2 separate regions of the Homo sapiens genome follow, and region 2 is linked to region 1. The links come from fine-mapping of genetic effects on gene expression. Tissue or cell type: blood mononuclear cells. Region 1 holds a variant in brackets; the other region holds the start of a gene. All regions are shown on one strand. Distances are between the middles of the regions.

Region 1 (10,810 bases):
AAAGATTGTCAGAATCTATGGTATGTTTTGAGAACTGGCAGATGCCCCTGAGGAAAAGGCTAGACTCAGCTTTCTGGGTATTTATTGCCCTGGATCTTGACCCCATATTTCTTTACTGCCTTGTTAACTCTCTGATGCATTTACTTAGAATCTAAAAAAAAAAAAAAAAAAAATCCAGATTTTTAAATCTATTTTCAGTTAGAAGGGTTGGTCTGAATTACATTCATCACCATTAATGAAAGCAGATTTTTAAATATTGCTTATGATTTTATTCCTCCAGAAGTTTCACTTTAGTGTAGACATTTCTTATAATACTTTATTTTAAAATTTTATTATGATTATTATTATTATACTATAAGTTCTAGGATACATGTGCACAATGTGCAGGTTTGTTACATACATATACATTTGCCATGCTGGTGTGCTGCACCCATTAACTCATCATTTACATTAGGTATATCTCCTAATGCTATCCCTCCCCCCTCCCCTCTCCTCCGCCCCCCCATGACAGGCCCCGGTGTGTGATGTTCCCCATCCTGTGTGCAAGTGTTCTCATTGTTCAATTCCCACTTTTGAGTGAGAACATGCGGTGTTTTGTTTTTTGTCCTTGCGATAGTTTGCTGAGAATGATGGTTTCCAGCTTCATCCATGTCCCCACAAAGGACATGAACTCATCCTTTTTTGTTGCTGCATAGTATTCCATAGTGTATATGTGCCACATTTTCTTAATCCAGTCTATCACTGATGGACATTTGGGTTGGTTCCAAGTCTTTGCTATTGTGAATAGTGCCACAATAAACATACATGTGCTTGTGTCTTTATAGCAGCATGATTTATAATCCTTTAGGTATATACCCAGTAATGGGTTGGCTGGGTCAAATGGTATTCCTAGTTCTAGATCCTTGAGGAATCACCACACTGACTTCCATAATGGTTGAACTAGTTTACAGTCCCAGCAACAGTGTAAAAGTGTTCCTATTTCTCCACATCCTCTCCAGCACCTGTTGTTTCCTGACTTTTTAATGATCACCATTCTAACTGGTGTGAGATGATATCTCATTGTGGATTTGATTTGCATTTCTCTGATGGCCAGTGATGATGAGCATTTTTTCATGTGTCTGTTGGCTGCATAAAGGTCTTCTTTTGAGAAGTGTCTGTTCATATCCTTCGCCCACTTTTTGATGGGGTTGTTTGATTTTTTCTTTTAAATTTGTTTAAGTTCTCTATAGATTCTTGATATTAGCCCTTTGTCAGATGGGTAGATTGCAAATATTTTCTCCCATTCTGTAGGTTGCCTGTTCAATCTGATGGTAGTTTCTTTTGCTGTGCAGAAGCTCTTTAGTTTAATTAGATCCCATTTGTTAATTTTGACTTTTTTTGCCATTGATTTTGGTGTTTTAGACAGGAAGTCCTTGCCCATGCCTATGTCCTGAATGGTATTGCCTAGGTTTTCTTCTAGGGTTTTTATGGTTTTAGATCTAACATTAAAATTTTATCATTAGAAAAGTCTTCCCACTCGGAGAATATCATGAGTATATTATTCTCTTAATTTTTGTTGTATATGTTTTGGTTTCAATTTGTTTTTTATTTAAGTCTTTAATTGAATTGGAATATAATTTGGTATATAATGTAAGATAAAGATCTAACTCCTTTTGCTCTAAAAGCTTAACCAATTATTCCAACATAATCAGTTTTTACAAATACCACAGTTTACAGTTTACTTTTGTTAGCTTTATATTATACTTAATATATTTGGTATATGCCTCTTTTCACTAGGCATTGTCTTCTCAAAATTGTTTCCTTAATACCATATTTAATGGGGAGAAACTGAAGCTTTCCCAGAACGAGGCAAAAATATCTCTCTCACTACTCGTTCTCAGCATTGTACTGCAAGTCCTAGCTAATGCTATAAGAGAAAAGAAGGAAATAAAAGGTATATGTATTGGAAAGAAAGAACGAAAATTGTCTTTGTTTGCAGATAACACCGTCATCTATATGAAAAGTCAGAATGAGTAAAAAAAATTCTTTTGGAATAAGTGCTTATACCAAAGTCATAGGATAGAAAGTCAACACACAAAAGTCAGTTGCTTTTTTATATACAGCAATGAACAAGTGAAATATGAAATTAAAACACAATACCATCTATATTAGCATTCCCCCAATGGAATACTTAGGTGTAAGTCTAACAAAATATGTACAAGATCAATATTAGGAAAACTGCAAAACTGTGATAAAAGAAATCAAATAACTAAGTAAACTCAGAGATATTCACCATTTATAGATAGGAAGATTCAATATTGTCAAGATCTCAGTTTTTCCCAGCCTGATCCATAGATTCTGTGTAATCCCAATCAAAATATCATCACGTTCTTTTGTGGATATCAACAAAGTGTTTTTGAAGTTTATGTGAACAGGCAAACACACGAATACCTAACACAATATTGAAGGAAAAGAACCAAGTCCAGATGATGAAAGTACTGAACTCCAACTACTATGAAGCTATAGTAATCAAGACAATGTTGGTATTGGCAAAGAATAGACAAATAGATCAGTGGAACAGAATAGAAAGCTCAGAAATTAACTCATAGAATATAGTCAATTTATCTTTGACAATGAATCACAAACAGTACAATGGAGAAAAGACAGTCTCTTCAACAAATGTGCTAGAACAACTGGATATATATGGGCAGGAAAATGAATCTAGACACAGACCTTACACCCTTCACAAAAAATAGCTCAAAATGGATTATAGACCTAAAGGTAAAACTTAAAACTGTAAGACTTCTAGAAGATTACATAGGAGAAAATCTAGATGACCTTGGGTTTGGAAGTGCATTTTTTAGCTATAACACCAAAGGCATGATCAATGAGAGAAATCATTGATAAGATTTCATTAAAATTTGAAATTTCTGTTCTCTGAGAGAAACTGTCAAGAGAATTAGGCAACAAACTGGGAGAAAATATTGGCAAAAAACATAACTGAGAAAAGGCTGTTATCCAAGATGTACAACTATTAATATTCAACATAAGAAAATGAATTATCTGATTAAAAAATAAGCAAAAGATGTGGACAGATACCACTTTGGCAACTTTTTTAGTTGAATAGAGATTTTGTTTGAAACTATAAATAAGAATACATAAATGAAGAAGTATTAAAATATTTATAGTATTTAGACAGTATTTCCATCGAGGAGTATATTATGCCTGCCTTGAACCATGTTATCAGCTGGAAATACCAACTCTTTGTAACCGTACACTTAAGCATCCCACTCTGCAACCTGCACGTCTCCAAGCTCAGTCACTTGGTCTATAACCTATTATTCAAACACACAGAGATTCTAGTCCCAGGATGACTACACTTTCTCTCTCCAAATTCTCTTTATTTCATCTCTATTTTGACATAGTTTTGACTCTTTAGTATGTCACTTTATCCAATGTATCTTCAATATATTCTCAATTACTTTCTCTTTGTTATTCTTAATTACTGTCATGTTCTTTCCCTCTCTCTCTGCCTATGTTAACTGTAGAGGAAAGTAAATAATGCATAGATTGATGCTATTAAAGTTAATATTTCTATATTTTATTATTAATTTCTTGTTCTCATTTTATTCAGTAACTATTTCTTATCTTTGTCACTTTCCCAAAATCTAACTTCACTATCACCCTTTCAACTCTCAACAGCTGAGCTAGTTTTCTTCTTAAATCACAGAGAATATAGACATCATCAGATGTGAAATTTATCAATTTCTTGTCACCAAATATATAATCATCTTGGCATGTGCACCTATCCTCTTTTTTTCCCTCCAGTGTCCTGCTTCCTATAATGGTGATTTCTCTGCCTGTGCATTAGATTACATTGTATTCTGCCTCCATCCATGCATTTATCCATATTTTCTGTATCTCCAACATCTCTCTATTTTCTTGTTCCTTCCTTCCTCATTTTAACTTCTACAAGAATTTTCTATTAATAGCAAACAACTT[T/C]GGATGTCTTCCGTATATATAATCTATTTCTCTGCTATCCACTGCAAACATTCTTAAAAGAGTTGCCCACTTCCCTATTGGTGGACAGTTTTCAATATTGTGCTATTTCAAACAATAGTAAAATTAGCACATATTTCTATATGGTAGATTTACAGAATTCCTATTAATAGGTTGAGAGTTAAGTGTTTAAAGGCATGATACTTACTGCCAAATTGCCTTATAAAATGTCTGTAATGATTGCCAGCCCATCTACAGTCCAGTTTACCTATACTTGCTACCTTTATTTTGTTATTAGTAACGAATATTATTTAATCTAAAATCTAAATGTTTTAATCTAAAATCTGAAATTTTCTGTCAATCATTTTTAATTGTACATGCTTTTGATTAATCATTTTACTTCAGTTTCAATTTTTTATTGATTAATAATATTGGGCACCTTTCCAAATATTCATTGGCTATTTCTTTTTCTATTAGATGCCTATTTTCTATCTTTTACCCTTTTATTTTTATATTTCTTGGAGCCATTTGTGAATAAATATTATAATTTTTTTCTTTTTTAATTGCTTGATATACCAAATAAAGTTGAAATTTCTGCTGTGTGAAAGAAACTGTCAAAAGAATTAGACAAGCAACAAACTAGGAGAAAATATTGGCCAAATACATGATGTATAAGCAATTTTGTAAAAATTTTGTAAAAATTGCTTATATAGCCAGATCTGTAACTTCTTCTTTTTGGCTTTTGGGTTACATGCTTTAAAAATCACTCCTTTTGAGGAAATTGTGTACATTGACTGCCTGCACTTCTTTTTTTCATTTTTTTTTATTGAACCTTAATAGAAGTACATATTTTCAGAGTACCTGTGATAATTTTATACATCCATATAATGTGTACAGATCAAATCAGGGTAATTGGAATGTCTATCACCTTAAATATCTTTTCTTTATGTCTGCACTTTTCGAAACCCTATTATACCTTAATTCACTGCAATGTGGATTTCTGTCTTCACTGGTCGACTTAACTTGCCCTTACCAAGGCTGCAAATGACCAAAGTAAGCACATTTTCTATGAAATTTTTTTTTCTGCTGTTTTACATGATACCATATCCTACCCATTTTGGTCCTTGCTTTCTGACTACTACTCAGTCTTTACACGCCTTGAACTCAAATCATCTCATTGTTGATATTCTTCAGAGTTTTGCCATAGGACAGCATCTCTCCTCATTTTTTAAAACTCTGACTTGTAGCTACAAGGTTTATCTCAAGGTGTGATGTCATCTTGATGATTGTGGATGGGGGTGATGTTCTAGTTTTGTTTGACATCATTATGGCCAGGGCCCCAGGGAGGCCAAGGTCCTCCCCCGACAGTCGCTTCTTTCCCCTCTCCGTAAAGCCCCATGAGAGCTTTTTTGGCAAGAGTTGCCAAAAAGTAAAGAGAAAATGCCATTTTGTTATCAAAGGTGGGCTGGTGTGAGATAACCCTCAATGCAGAGCTCTGTTCAATTAGATAATAGTGAAGTGTTTAGGCTTCTTCTACCACTTTTCCTAAAAGCCCGATCTCTACCTTTGGATCTTACTACACTCTAGCTGGCTGCTTGATAAACTCAAACTCATAATCATCCTGCTCAGTGTGTTCAGAGTCTGTTTTCAACTCTCTTGCCAGAGTATACATCTTAATCTTAAATCTGATCATGTCTGTTTCCTACTCATATCACTCCAAAGCCTCCCTTGTTGACTTAAGGTTTAAATAAAAACCTTTATCATGTCTTACAAGACTTTCTGATTTAAAGTCTTTCCTCCTTTTCCAATACAGCCTCTTTTTAAATTTTTAAATATTTTTCTTCTCTCTGCATCAGCCAGTCTGAATCTTTAGGTTATCTAATAAAATGTCTTCTCTATAACCTTAGTGACTTTGTGCAAGCTGTTCCCTCTGGCTAGGACCCCATGCATTTCTTCCTGTGGCAAGTGGCCACTCCCATGTGCCCACAGCACCCATTGTTTCCCTCCATCCCTCCAGCAATGATCACATTATATTGTACTTCCCCAGATACTTCACATTGTAGCTTCCACACTAGACTCTGAGCTATGTGAGGATAGGACACAGTTTTGTCCTCAGCACCTAGCACAATACTTGCACTGTGATATATGGCTTATAAATATTTATTAAATTTACAGTTAGCTGAGTGCCAAGTACTCCCTTATAGCATTTTAAATTTTCTCTATCATTCCTTCTAAATTGTATTTAATTTTGATTAATCATTTTATGTAATTAGAGAGATAAAGCCCACTTTACTGATTTTATTTTTCAAGAAGCCATTTTACATTAATTTTCCCTTTAACGTCTTTTAGTACTCCAAATCACTGTTCTATTATCATCATATTTTGTTCTCTTCTCATAGTGTTTTGCCCCACTGTGGTTATTTGTTGACTTGGGTTTATTGAGTGAGTGAGTGATTGAGTTAATGAGTAAATGCCTCTCACTTTTCCCCAAGCAGACACTAAGTGCCATCCAAGCAAGTACCGAATTTATCTTGTTCATTATTGGAGTCTCAGTGACTAGAATAATGACTATATATGGGATTAATGAATAAATATGTAATTTTATGACTACCATTTTGCTAAGTAGTTTCTAATTTTAGAAGTAAAATTAATTAAAAATTAAATAGTTTTAATTTTCTCTTTGGTCCAAGAGTTAAGTAGAGCATTTCTATAATTTCCAAATAATTGAAAGTTTTTTCTTTCCTTTTTGCTTTGTATTAATACTTTGTAATTTTAATGCAATGAGATCACAGAAATAGAGTATTTACAATTGTACTATTGAAAACTTGTTAAGTCTTTCTTTGTGGGATAATATCTGAGTAATATTTTTAAATCTTCCATGATTACTTCATAAAGTTTCCATAAGATACCAAGTTTGACCTGGAACTATTAAATCAACAATAATATAATATCCAGGTGTCATTCCTTATATATTTTTTGTTTACAAGTTCTGTAAAATGCTTTCTTAAAAAATGAGTTAAATCTACAATTACTGTCCTTTTTATTTTAATTTTCTTGATTCCAACACTTATACAGATTATATGTTAATGTCCTGTTATTGTTAAAGATTAATGATTATGGAATAACTTTATCTTTTTATCAAAATTATATTACTGTATCTGTCCAATTTAAGGTGATTTGCTTTAAAATGTGCTTTTAATTTTTTTTGTTATTTATTTATTTATTTATTTAATTTTTGAGACAAAATCTCCCTCTGTCACCCAGGCTGGAATGCAGTGGTGCGATCTCAACTCACTGCAACCTCTGCCTCCCAGGTTCAATCAATTCTCCTGCCTCAGCCTCCCAAGTAGGTGGTATAACAGGCATGTGCCACCATATCCAGCTAATTTTTCTATTTTTGGCAGAGATAGTATTTCACCATGTTGGCCAGGCCGATTATGAATTCCTGACCTCAAGTGATTTGCCCACCTCTGCCTCCCAAAGTGCTGGGATTACAGGCATGAGCCACCGTGCCCAGCCAAACATACTTTTAAAAGGTTATATTTTATAAAAACTCTTTTTATTATTTTACTTATTTATTTTTTAATCTAGGGCCTGCCATGGGGCTAGCAGACCCCTCACCCTGGCAAGAGGAAATAATTCTTAAATAATATTATCTTAATGTTTGATTTCTTTTTTTCTTCTTGTTTGCTGATATATTTTTGTCTAAACTTTACATTTAATCTTTCCTGTCATTTTGTTTTGAGTGTGACCCTTATAAATAGCTTATAGTTGTACTTTGTTTTCTGATCCAGTCTGAGTCTTTTCAACATGTTAGAAGAATTTAACTCACTTATACTTAGTGACATTAAAGCTAATATTTAATAAAAAATTAACATTTTGAAAGTACTTACAATCTGTCATGTGCTACTCTAATTTTATCTATTAATACATTTAATTTTTATAATAGTCCAACTAGATAAAGAGTATGAATATACTCATTTTACAGATATGGAAACTGAGACATAAAAAGATTATAAGTGATTTGTTAAGGTCACAAGAGTAAAACGTGAAAGAGCCATGAAGTGTTCCTAAGTAGTCTGGCTCTAGAGCTTGCTATAGCTACAAGCTATATTGTCATCTAATTTTATGTTGATTTTGAAAACTTTAGATAATACATTATATATTCATGCGGTCTGCAAGATCTTTGAGATAATCATTTTAAAATGTTGCAGATAGATTCCTTAAGAATCTGTTTTCCCATGTGGCCCAGCTCTTCTGTGACAGTTTTCATCTATGCTTTGAGTCCTAAAAATACTTCTTGGTTCTGGAAGAATAATGCTGTTCATACCTGATTTATGGTTCTATTGAAACCTTGTAACTTTTATGTTTTCCGGATAAGCAGATGCTCACTCTGTCAACCTAACTATGAATTCCATTAGATTTCTGTTCCTTTATGTCTATGAAATCCAAATTACCCTTTCTCTCTTAGCTTTGAGCTCTGGTTGTATGTACACAATTCCTGTGACCACCTTTCTTAGGGTACTTTGGACATGGCACAATGCAGCCACTGGCATCTCAGCTTCTGGGATGGTTTTTAAACTTAAAGATGATTACAGAAAGCCAGTGATCCTAATGACAGAGTCAGACTGGGCCGCAGACTGAAGCACACATAAAAGAAAATTTGACTGAGCGGAAAATTGAGAAGTGAGAAGCAGAAAATGTCTGACATTCAAGTATTTAAAATTGCTTGTTTAAACTTTTTATTTTAAGTTCAAGGATATATGTGCAGGTTTGTTACATAGACAAAGTTGTGTTACGGGGGTTTGTTGTACAGATTATTTCATCAGGCTAATACCCATAACTTGTTTTCCTGATCTCTTCCCTCCTCCACCCTCCACCCTCCAAAAGGCACCAGCGTTTGTTCCCCTCTATGTGTCCTTGTGCTCTCATCATTTAGCTCCCACTTATAAATGAGAACATGCAGTGTTTGGTTTTCTGTTCCTGTGTTCATTTGCTAAGGATAATGTCCTCCAGCTCCATCCATGTCCCTGCAAAGAACATGATCTCATTCTTATTTATGGCTGCATAGTATTCCATGGTGTATTTAGTGTTTGCTTTAAGCTTAGCGAAAGTGATTAATCCATAACTACCAAAAGACTAAAAAGAATTCTATTAAAACTGCTTTTTAACAATGTTTATTATGGCAGGAATAATTTTGGTGCATTGAATTTAAAAGGATAATGCAGTTATTTTGAGAATCTAAAATAGATAATAGATAAGGTCAAAAAGCAAAAATCAGAGGTAATAAATGGTATAGATAACCAAACAATGCAAACTTTGTATTTTTGACAAAAAAAGATTTTTTAATTGTTTATCCATCTAAAATGCTTTTGTAATAAAAATAATTGGAATTTTTCCTGTTGAAATTTATTTTACAGACCACATTTTCAATATAATCTTTTTATGATGTCCGGATTTTAAAAATAATAACAATTTAGAACAAAGGATAATGTTTGCTCACAGAAAACAACCAAAAGTTGATAGTGTGCTTGCACAACCTAGCAATATACTCCAGTACCTATGAAACTAATGCAATTAAAGATATATCAAAATAAGATACACATCACATTACTGATGTTTTTTTAAAAAAATAGTATGTCAATATTAATGGCATGAATCATAGAAAATCATCTAATAGCAGATATTAAATTAGTGAAAATGAGCAAAACACATATCAATTTTTACCTAAATCATGCAGATATTAGTAAATAAATTAACAATTTCCCTTAATAAATGGGATTTGTTCATCTTTTTAAGTTGGTAGGTAAAATATTAAATTGAAAAAGTTTGTTTAGGACATATTCATTGAATGATTGAATAAATGAATGAATACCAAACCTACTTCCTGGTTTCAAAGAATCTACCATGCATCAATTCAATAGTACCTAGGATAAGTGTAGAGTTTTATATTTCTTGAAAAAAGAATGGCCAGATTTGTGTTTTCAGGTCATGCAACCACATATGTGATTCTATTCAGTTCCGTTCAATTCTAAATCTATTGAGAAATTTTTATGTTACTTGTATATGACAGTTTCATCTGTTAGGCATTTTTCTTAGGCAAAATGAGAATTCAAAGTCCAGCTGCATTTTAGAATATATTCTCCTCACCAATAAATTCAAAAAATGAGTTCTACTATCACTACAAATCCAGAGGATTTTACATCCAGGCACAGACACACACACACACACACACAGAGACAGATACATTTTGTAGTTAGCAAGTAGGAGGATTAAAGGCTATGGTTATCTAAACACCTTCTGTAATCTTGTAATCATTTTTTTTCTTATTATGGCTGTTCAGAAGTTCCAGCAAAATGTTAAATACAAATGGTGATAATGGATTCATTTATTTTGTTTTTGGCTATAAAGGGAATGTTTCTTATGTTCACCATTAACCATGATATTTGTTTCTTTAACCTTTCTCAGGTCAAAGAAATTTCGGTATTCCTCATTTGTTGACAAATAAAGACCTCAGAGTTGAAATTCACCTAAAATATTTCTGCACATGTTGAAGTGGTTGTATTATTTTTATCCTTTAATATATTCATTGGAGGAATTACAATGGACAGTCTAGTGTTAAACCAACCATGCAGTCTGGAATACTTGGAAACTTATATTGATCATAAAAGATATAAATATTTATATCTGACTGGATTTAATTTGCTAATATTTTATTCATGATGTTTCAACTTTGTTTATGAATGAAATTAGACTCTAATTTTCTTCTCTCATATTGCCCTTGTTGTGTTCTTTGGTATAAAAGTTACAGTGACTTCGTATTAGTTGGGAA
Region 2 (10,810 bases), 64 kb before region 1:
TGAGCCGAGATTGCGCCACTGCAGTCCGCAGTCCAGCCTGGGCGACAGAGCGAGACTCCGTCTCAAAAAAAAAAAAAAAAAAAAAAAAAAAAAAAAAAAAAAAAAAAAAAATAATAATAATAATAATAATAATAATACACGCACACTTATGTTCATTGCAGTACTATTCATAATAGTGAAGCATGAAATCAACCCAAGTGCCCATCAATGATAGACTAGATAAAGAAAATGTGGTACATATACACATGGAAAACTATGCAGCCATAAAAAGGAACAAGATCATGTTCTTTGCTGGGACATGGATGGAGCTGGAAGCCATTATTCAGCAAACTAACACAGGAACAGAAAATCAAACACCACATGTTCTCACTTTTAAGTGGGAGCTGAATTATGAGAACACATGGACACAGGAAGGTGAACACACCCACAGGGGCCTGTCAGGGGCAGCAGGGCACCATGGCTGGTGCATGCTGGGCTTAATACTTGGGTGGTGGGTTGATAGGTGCAGCAAACCACTGTGGCAACCATTTACCTATGTACATCCTGCACATGTGTCCTGGAAGTTAAAATTTAAAAAAATTAAGAGCATGCAATTTCTTAATATAATAACACAATTTTAGAATTAGGAAAACTTTTGCTTGCTTTAACTACATAATATCCATTTTAGAATGAAAAAAAAGCATTTAAAATTTTTGTATACCTATAAAACCACCTAGAGATGGCAGAGACTTTTTCAGAATGTTTGTATACGGTAATGTGTTGGTGAAGTTATCTACATTGTTTTTAAAGATATATTTCATTCTTGACTAGCCTTTTTACTCAGTTTTTATCTAAGGTAAACTTTCTGTTGGAGTACTGGCATGATAAATTTAGTCTGAATTTCTTGTGAGACAGAATTGCTAATTTGTTATAACACTACACAGAACAAGGTCTTGTGAAATAGCAATCTGTTTTTAAAAGACTTGTGGTGTGAGAAAAATTTTAAAAACTATTATGAATTTGCATCATGCTTAAAAATTAATAGTACAAAAAGAAAGGATGAAGAATAGTCAAACATTTTGAAGAACAAGATGAGGCTCCTTGTTCTCCCTAGATATCAGTGCTGATTATAAAGCTTGAGTAATCAGGACAGTTTTTTCAGTTTTCAACTTGCATAGAATAGAAAGAACAAATTGCCCATCCCCAAAAATAAACCAATGAACTGATACATGATATGCTATGCAGTAATGCAAGCATTCATTCCATGGGGAGGAAAGTAGAAAAGTAAAATGAATCCCTACCTCACACCATACAAATAATCAATTTCAGATGATTTAAAGTCTAAAAGGTAAAACATTAAAATTGTAAGCCTTTTAGAATACAACATAGAAAAATACATTCATAACCTGGGAGGGGGGGGTAATAAAGGTTTTCTTAAGCTAGATATAAAGCATATTCCATAAAGGAAAGTATTGATAAAGTTATCAATTATAGCTTATTTTTATAAAAATACACCACCATATGAAGATTGAAAGTCAAAGAAGTGATACAACTGACAGAGGATTAAAATCTAGGCTACACACACAGACATAGATATACAAATCAAGAAAACCCAATGAAAATTAGTGAAATATATAAATAAGCAATTCATATTGAAAATGGGAATGGTAAACCTATTAAAAGCTGCTCAACCTCATAAGTAAGAAAGGAAATGTGAATGTAAACCTTAATAAAGTACCTTTTTACACCCCTTAGGCTGGACAACATGAAAATGTCTGATAATACCAAGTATTGCCAGAGTGTGGACCAAGAAAAACTCTTACAAATACTAATAAAACTGTAAACCATGTGAAAAACAATTTAATATTGACTGTATCATACCCTGAAACAGAAATCCACTCCTAGGTGATACATTAACTAGAAAAATTTTTATGCACATTCATAAAGAGATATAAACAAACATGTTCCCAACAGTATTACTTATAATAGTAAAAACTGTCATCAGAATGTGAATGTGGTGAGTTTATACAATTAACTATTATGCAGCATCAAAAATCAGTCAACCAGAGTGACACATATGAATATGAATCATTATTATTTACATAATGTTGATATTTTAAAAATCAAAAGCAATTTGCAAAAGAATGCATACTGTATTATATCATTTATATAAGGGTTACCTATGCTAAGCGATACAAAAATATTGTTAGTACTCAAAGTGCACAAAATGTATGAATGTATAAATGTACAAATAAATACAAAATTTAGAAATGAGGTTATCTTTTGTGTGTGGGGGAATGGGGTGGACAGAGAGAGGAATGGGAGAGGAGGCTTCAGTCATATCCATAATGCTTTCTTAATGGGCATAATGGGTATATCAGTGGTCACTGTATTTTTTCATCTTAGGCAAATTAATGTTTACAAAATAATTATTCAAATGAATTAAAATCCACAATAAAGAAGCATTTTCTTTAGCTAGAACAGATTGTTAATTTGAGAGGCCAATTTCATAGTAAAAGCCCTCTAACAAATTCATTTGAAGAAAAATCTTAATGACCTACCTCCATTTTCTATTCAGAACCTCAGCCTGGTTTTTCAAAAACTAACCACAACAAAGCATCACTGTCCACCCTTACAGTACCCCACTCATACTGATCCTGTCTTACTAAGGTCTACTGTCTCTGAGGTTTTCAGACCTTCATCTTCATGCATCAAAATTCAGTAATGTTTTCTATTTCCCTAATTACCAGTATCTAATTAAGCCAATCCTGTTAAGATACTAACAACTCAAAAACTAAAAGTGTTATCCTGTCTATATGTACTTTTATTTTAATGAGTAATTGCCAAAGGGGATATCTTTTACGACAAGTGTAGCATTTCAGGCATCCAAAGGGAAATATTCAAAGATATTTGACATCTTATTGTTTAATATCGCCATGAGTTTTATTTTCAAATAAGGTTAGTCTTGCTTATCCTAAGAAGCATTATCATTTCAAAGATTTTAGCAGTGTGGGTCAAAGAAATTGATTAACAACTTGCAAAATTTTATAGCCTTAATGTCTAAACATTTATAGATGTAATAGGAACATCAAATCTGTTAAAACTGCCTTGATCTAATTTGTAAAATGGTGATAGTTTTTAGTGTTGGGCCTCTGCTTGAACAACATCCAAAGTATATTTAGCATTTATCTTTCTCCAATTTTTAGACAGTCATCTGCATTTCCAGAGGGTTGATGACAGGGCAGCTTGAAGTTTAAAGACAGCACCTGCATTTGCATTTCAATAGTTCCATAATTCTATGAAACCACTGAAATCTCTTCAATGTCTCATTGTTTAAATAGTAAAGGTGGCCAGATTTTGTTCAAGATTCATAATCTTACAAAAATATGGAGCCGTTGTATTCAAAGCTTATTCTAAAGAGAATACCTTCTCTTTACACCTTATAATCCTGTTTGTTAAAACCCATAACAATTAGGTGGACATCTGAACATATTTAAAGTATTTTATCCATTGGATTTTTATGGTCCAAAATCAAGATTCTAGGACAAGATAAATGGGAAAGGAGGACATGTAGTTTGAAATGTGTTATATCAGCACCATCAATTTTTAATTCGGGGTTCCAAAATTATCTTTTTCTCCATTGGAAAGGAATACGTTTGTTTCCACGTAGGAAACTACTTCCACTTAACACACAGAAGGTAACTTCATTGGTAGGTATGCTGCCTGTATGCAAGGATCTGCAGTTACTCATAACTGGCTGTGTTTTTAAACAGAATAATTTTTGTCAAATATTTTGATACAAAACAATGAAGCCTGAAGTTAAAATAAGAAATTCTGGGCTCAAGTGCAGGGCAACTGGACACCCTTATGAGATGAGCCTTTGTGCCCTTCCTGTAAGTGTGGATTAGATTATCCACCACCTAGATTTAAGAAAGGATTAAATGAAAGAATATATGTGAAAGTACTGTGTTGACTGTATTAAAAAGAACTGGAAACCCATAAAGGACCGCTATAATTGTGTAATTGTTGCGCCAGGTTATTTTGTCAATACATTTTTAATCAGCACCTAAAATATTTCATGTCACTTCATCCAGCAGAGACATTGAGATGTGGCAAAATGTTTAAAAGGACAACACTATAGGTGAAAAAAAAACAGAGCACAACAGTAGTCAATTCAAAAAAAATTCTTTTAACAATTTTATTCCATTTCCTTGCCATTTTCAGAGCCCTTTCTTTTGGTGTTTTGTAACAATATAAAAAACGATCTGGCTTTTCAAAATATACTCCTTTTCCTTTCTATATGCAAATGATATGAAACACTGGCAAGTTGTCCTTAAAAGTCAGCCCACCTTCATGGCCCAGATAAAGTGGGCAATAATTCCTCTCTAGGTCCTCCGCACATTAGGTGCCAGTCTCTCAAGTCTCTTCCTAGACAATTTCTAGCAGCCAGGAAACATAATTTTTGACCTTGAAGACTTTAGCATTCCAAATCTAAGAATACAATCAGGTGTGTTTTCTTTTGGCAAACTGTGAGCTTACACACACCCCCAGAGTGGCATTTGAATGCTGTGCACAGTCTTGACTGTGTTCGAGGTTAGAGAACTAAAGACAAGATTCTTTCTCTCTTGTAATGAAGAAACAAAAACCACATAGCCTATATTCCACAAAAGAATACCAGCATAATATATCCTTTTTTAAAGATGTAATTCATTAGATGTGTGTAGAGAATAAAAGTGTAAATATAGGCTGGGAACGGTGGCTCACGTCTATAATCCCAGCATTTTGGGAGGCCGAGACAGGTGGATCACCTGAGGTCAGGAATTCGAGACCAGCCTGGGCAACATGGTGAAACCCCCGTCTCTACTAAAAATACAAAAAAAATCATCCGGGCGTGGTGGCACGCGCCTGTAATCCCAGCTACTCGGGAGGCTGAGGCAGGAAGATCGCTTGAACCGGGGAGGAAGAGGTTGCAGTGAGCCGAGATCGCGCCATTGTACTCCAGCCTGGTCAACAAGAGCGAAACTCCGTTTCAAAAAAAAAAAAAAAAAGTGTAAATATAGTACTAGCTTCATTGATATGTCTTGCTGCTTCTGGGACTTTAGAGAAGCGTATAAGAAGAAAGTGTGTGTGCCTTTACGTAAGGGAGCATATGAGAGAGAGAGAGAGAGTGTGTGTGTGTGTGTGTGTGTGTGTGTGTGTGTGTGTGTGTGTCAGAGAGAATGTTCATGGCAGGAGGAGGGGCGGTGAATATATGAAGGGAAGTTGGGAAAACCCTTCCCTTTTTGTGCACTCCCAGGGCAGCAGCCGCAACCCCAGAATGAGGAGAGGACTTAAGAGCAGGCACAAGGTTCGCTGCCATGACTGATGTGAAGCGACCTGACGCACAAGCGGAGACTTTTCTCCTTGGCAGCCAACAACCTGCAGCAGGCAAGGCGGGCGGGGGAGGAAACCCCGAGGAGGCGCTCCCGGCCGCCTCTTTGCTGAGATAGCAGGAGCAGCAGCCTGAGGAGCCACGAGCTCAGCGTCACTGAGCTAGTGCGGGTGCAGGGGCGCTCAGGCAGGCGCACAGGCCGGGAGCCGCTTCTGCCGCTCAGGCGGCCGCGCTGCAGAAAGCCGCGCCGCGCTGCCCGAGCGCCCGGGGCTGGCCCGCGAGCGGGAGGAGCCGGCAGCCGCGCTCCGCCCCGCGCTGAGATTCGTGCCACCTGCCTCGAACACCACGGAGGCGAGAGGAACCCAGAGAGCTCGGCCTCTCGTCCCGTTCTCGAAAAGCAGCCTATCGTGACGGAGCCGGGAGAAGGCTAGCGTTTCAATCCTGTGCAGGACTGGGATTTTTCTTCTCATAATTTGGGGGAGCCGGAGTAGAGGTCAGAGGGACAGGCGAGGATCTCAAAAAGAGACCGAGGGTTGTGAACATGGTTACCCCCTCCTATCATTGGAAAATCTCCTTGACATTTTTCACACTTTGAAGCAGCTGCAGCTGGTGTCGTCGGAAAAGGGGGTGGGAAAAAAGAGAGGGGGCGGGGAGAGCGGTGAGACACAGCCAAGAGCCATGAGCGGCGCCTCCTCGCCTGCCAATCCTGGCACCTGTGCGCCGAGCCACTGCACCGAGGAGGACCCTACTCCGGGTGAACACCGGGCTTGAAGCCACGGACACCCAGCCCCAGTGCAGCGGGTTCTCGCCGGCGGGACCTGCAGCCGCCCACTCGGGCCACCGCCACCGCCTCCTGCAGTTGCGGAGCGCTCAGCCCCTCCGAGACGCCCGCTGCGCCCTGGCCCCTGGGGATCCTCGCCCTGCACAGGCGCGGCAACGGGCAGGGGTTGTTACGGAGTTGGGTGCAGGATTCGCCTTTCCTGCTTGTCTCTTCTCCGCCCAGGATTTATTGTCTGTGGAGCCTTCTGGGGGCGGGGAGGGAGCTGCGCCTCCGCCACCGCCGCCGCCGCCGCCGCTGCTGCTGCGGTCGCTAGCGCGGCGCGCTGGGCAGGCTGAGGCTGGGGAGTGGACGCGCTCCTGCCTCCCCCGCCGGCGCTTCGGGCTTCCCCTCAGCCGCTTCCCGCGGGAACCTCTCCAGCCGTCCACCTGAAGGGCACTGGCATCATGGTCTAACGTGGCACCTTCCTGGATTCCCCTCTATCTCCTGTTCTTCCTACCTTCTACTCCTTCCCTCCTCTTCTCCTCCGAAGACCCTGGCGCCCACTCCACTGCGGACCCCTGAACACTTAAGGAATAACCCTTGGCAGCTGCACGACTACGCTCTCCGAAACCTCATGGGCAGTTTCTCCCGCCGGCGATGTGAGTAAGGCACGCTCGCTCCGTGGCGGAGGGTGCTGCGGGGGCCCGGCCGCGGCGACCGTAGGCGCGCGAGGTGTGGGACCCCAGAGGCCGGCCGGGGGCGGGGGTGGCAGGGCGGGAGGCTTCGGCGCTCGCGGGGAGCTGCTTGTGCGGTGGCCGAGGGAGGCGGCGAAGATGTGGTAGGTTGCAGAGCATTTGGAAATGGGGTGCTAACTGGGCGGGTGCATGGGAGCACCGAGTAGCTTGAGCTGGCAAGAGACCTTAAAGGGTTACATACTGCGAAAAGGAAAGGTAAATGTTGGGCGCTGGTGCTGGGACCATTGGTTCCGCTGAAATTAGGTTTAGCTCCTCGTTATTATCTTGGGTATCTCCAGTCAGCTTTTTTCCCAGAGGTGTCTGAGGGATGAAGCGCGTGTTTGATCGTGACACACACACACACACACTCACACACACTTGTGGCAGGACGCACTTGTCTCTTTATCTTGGAAGGTGTTGTATCAATGTCTCGATGTCTGTTTGAAAAAATACAATTAGAAGATTTTTATGTGATTGGGATTGAAGGGAAAGGGTGGGGTTTGGGGGGATGGAGGGGACGAAGGAACATGAAAGACTGGAGGACGGAAAGAAGTGGGGGAGCGTGTTCCCTGGGAGTCAGGGAGAACCTTGCCTCCCTCCCTGTCAGCTAGACAACTCCTGCCCACACATCTCCTTTGTGTGGCACGAGAAGCTGGTGAACCTGCCTATTCCCAATCCAGCGCTGGGTCCCCTTGAGGATCTTGCGTCCTCCTCTCCGAGTTATTAAGGATGCAGGACGTGTTTCGGATTCGACGTGGAAAGAGGGAGGGAAGCACATTAGCATTAAGGTAATCATGGCACCCTGGCTCGTGGACTATTAGATTGGCTACCAGTGGTCTCTAATCTTACTGTTTGCAGAGTCAAGAATGGGGGCGGGGGTTGGGGGACTGTATAGATTGCCTTTTAAAATAGTGTGACTTCATAATAACGGAGATGGCTGAAAGATTGCTTCCTTACACTACTTCTCGGCCATCAGGGCTGAATAAAGGACCCGCCTCCGCCCTCTACTCCGGCTCTTCTCTGGCTGTCTCTTCCCCATCAAGTCATAAAGCGAGCGGGTTGGGCGAGAGGGCACAGCTCGAGGCAGAGAAGAGACGGGGTCACTTTCACAACTCCCAGGAATCGGCTTCAGAAAGGAACCATCTGCGACTCCCACGTTCCTTTCGAAGTTCTCCTTCAAAAGGAATTACAAAAAAAAAAAAAAAAAAAAAAGCGATGGGGGTGGGGATCGGTAAGACACAGGGGTCCTCCCCCTGCTCTTTTCAATTACTTTCCCAATACTCTTTCAACACATCGAATTTACCTGCAGTGGTAACTGGGTCAGCAGGTAAATAGATTTGTATCTGTATATGTCGAAATGTGGCTCTCCTGGTGGATGAAAAGCAATTTTTTGTGAGCATATTCTAACCTAGGCGAAATTTCTAAGCACAATAGAGATTTTTATAGCGTGGGCGAGAAGAGTGCATTCCAGCGAAAGCAGGACACGTGATCCCTCCAACGGGTGAGATACAGTATTAGGAACTCGATTTTCTTTGTTCCAGCCTGAGCCTATGAGATGTTCAGCATCCTGGTTGCTTAAGTCCTCCTATAGAAGGAAAATAATAATAATAATAATAATAAAGTTGATCGGAGGCGAAATAGAGGGAAAATAAGCACAGGTAGACATGCGTGAACGGTTTGAAAGCTTCGCCTCTGCCTTTTTTTACCGCCCACCCTTCACCCCCACCCCTTGCTCCAGCCAGCCCCCTATTTTAAAATGAGGCATTTCCTCTGGGAGACGGTGGAAAAGTTCTCCAGCCCCTGCACACGTGGGTTCTCCAGCACTTCAGAACCTGCTGTGATTCGCAACAGATTACACCACCTTCCCAGTCCAAGTGTCACGCCTCCGTCCAGGCTTCCTTGAATTGGCTTCCAGGAAGGACTCTAAGGGAACTACCACGAGGTGTTTTTTGTTTGTTTGTTGTTTTTTGTTTGTTTGTTTTTACAAAAGACAGTAAAGCAATGAAGTCTTTACTTTTTAGAAATCATTGATTGCACAGGGGGAAAAATGAGCAAATAGGGATGTAGGAATGATTTTATGTTTCCTTAAGAGTCATATGGCTAAAGTATATTGGGGGTGTGTTTAGTGATTGAGTTTGGACTTCTGAGGTGTCTCAGGCCTGTGGAAAATGTCCTGAGGTCAGAATATTTATTAATTTAGTGGAGATATAACTTGTTTATGACCCAACATTTAGAGTTACCTGACTTGGAGATTTCTTATTTCATTTTCACTTAATGTTTTATAATCCATCTTAGTAGGCTAAAGTTTTTAAAAGGTGGTTTATTTATGTGTTATGCTGCATTGCATCATACTAATATGTAATGATAAGAAAAACAGTCAATTTTCATGACTTATTATGAGGTGAGAGTTCTTTATACATTTTTAAGAAAAAACTGACTATCCAAGAAAAAATGTGTACTTACCATGGCCAACACATAAATTCTACATCACTTGTGTCTGCACATATGCAGCTTAGAATTAGAAACAACTTCATAAAGAAACCTGGTCCAGTTGCAGTAGCCATGTTTTATTCAGAATTTTAGTGCAGCTTTAGGCTGTCATTAACATTTTCCCAATTAAATTCTTATTCCACTTTCTTTTTTAAGCTTTTAATTTTTCTAATTCCCTTATAAAATACAGAACATAAGCTTAAAGTGTTTTTGTGCATCTGCATTTTTGTTTTCTTTGGATTTCAAAAAATCACGAAGATATAAATTAATATGAATGTTATTGCTTATGAAAGTAATAAACTATATTATCTATATGATGTTCATTCCAGTGGTACTTGTAGATCTCTCTTATTTCAGCATATAGTACATGATTAAATATTTGATACAAAAACTTGGTCTTGTTAATCACAACTTTAAAACATTCACTTTTTAGAACAGATAAAATATTGATGTTAGGTTTTAATTGATGTATCAAAATTACACTTAGAGATACTAAAATTTTATTTGCTGAATGACTGTGGCCCCAATATAAGAAGGAATCACACATTCCACGAGATTATAACTTCATTGCTTACTCAGATTAACCGACTACACGAAGAGTAACCAATTATTGATGAATTATCATCTGAATTATTTATGGATTCTTATTACATTTTCTTTCTTCACACAAATTATTTCATAGTTTTTTGAAAAAATTATTTCAAACATATATGCTGTTGAACACAGTAGTTATAATAGCCACACTACCACTGAAAGACATTATTTGGTGTATTTTGTTGTCTCTAATAACAGTGACTACTTTGCAGAGTATCATCCACATTCTTTTTTGGAGCCATGTAAATTTGCAAGATGACTTTAGGGGAATGTTAATTCAAATCTGTGACATATAACAGACTTTTAGTTTATGACAAGCCGAGTTACCATTAACTAATTTTTATTGCCACGGAAAGATATCATTGGAGATGACTCTAGGCTCTTTGGAGAATGTTGAAGTTTTCACTCTGAATTTCTTTAATTTAGCAGTCAACATCAGTCTTCAATAGAGAGTTTTCAATGTTTCAATATTAAGAAATAAAATTTTAATATAAAGATAGCAATTTAAACCTATAATGAAGCAAATTATATTATATTCTGATGGAACAAAAAAGCAAATTATATAAGCTATTGTAATTAAATCAAATACCTAAATCAAAAGAAGGAGATTCATAGACAGGCTTCACATATGTTTTAAAAAACTTATTTGTGAATTGTCAATAAAAACTCAGAATGAAAAGTGGCACTATAAATCAACAATGTTTGAATGATGGTTGCCACAAATCAATAGTATTTTTTCTTTATGTGGCTTTTAACCATGTTATTTATGTGACTCAGGTTTGAATCATTAGAAATAATTACATTTTTATAGAAACAACTGTAGAGTATTACCCTGAGATAGTGAAAGAGGAGTAAGAAAAACTTAGGTATGTCTAGAAGTAA

The links. PIP is the estimated chance that this variant, and not a neighbour inherited with it, causes the effect.
Region 2: it holds the start of LRRC7, and the variant in region 1 is fine-mapped to the expression of LRRC7 in blood mononuclear cells (TOPMed, PIP 0.94).

The regions. Positions count from the first base shown.
Region 1 is chr1:69,626,232-69,637,041 of GRCh38, forward strand. The region is part of intron 1 of LRRC7 (leucine rich repeat containing 7); the gene reads left to right. Among named protein-coding and RNA genes, the nearest start is that of LRRC7, 64 kb to the left of the region's middle. The variant T/C (reference allele first, on the strand shown) is at 3,982.
Region 2 is chr1:69,561,873-69,572,682 of GRCh38, forward strand. It overlaps LRRC7 (leucine rich repeat containing 7), which reads left to right and starts at 6,050. Exons shown (of 27, transcript NM_001370785.2): 1 at 6,050-6,769. The coding sequence starts at 6,768. LOC105378789 (a long non-coding RNA gene) reads left to right here. Exons shown (of 12, transcript XR_947488.3): 12 at 1,735-3,978. RefSeq lists a silencer at 5,474-5,703.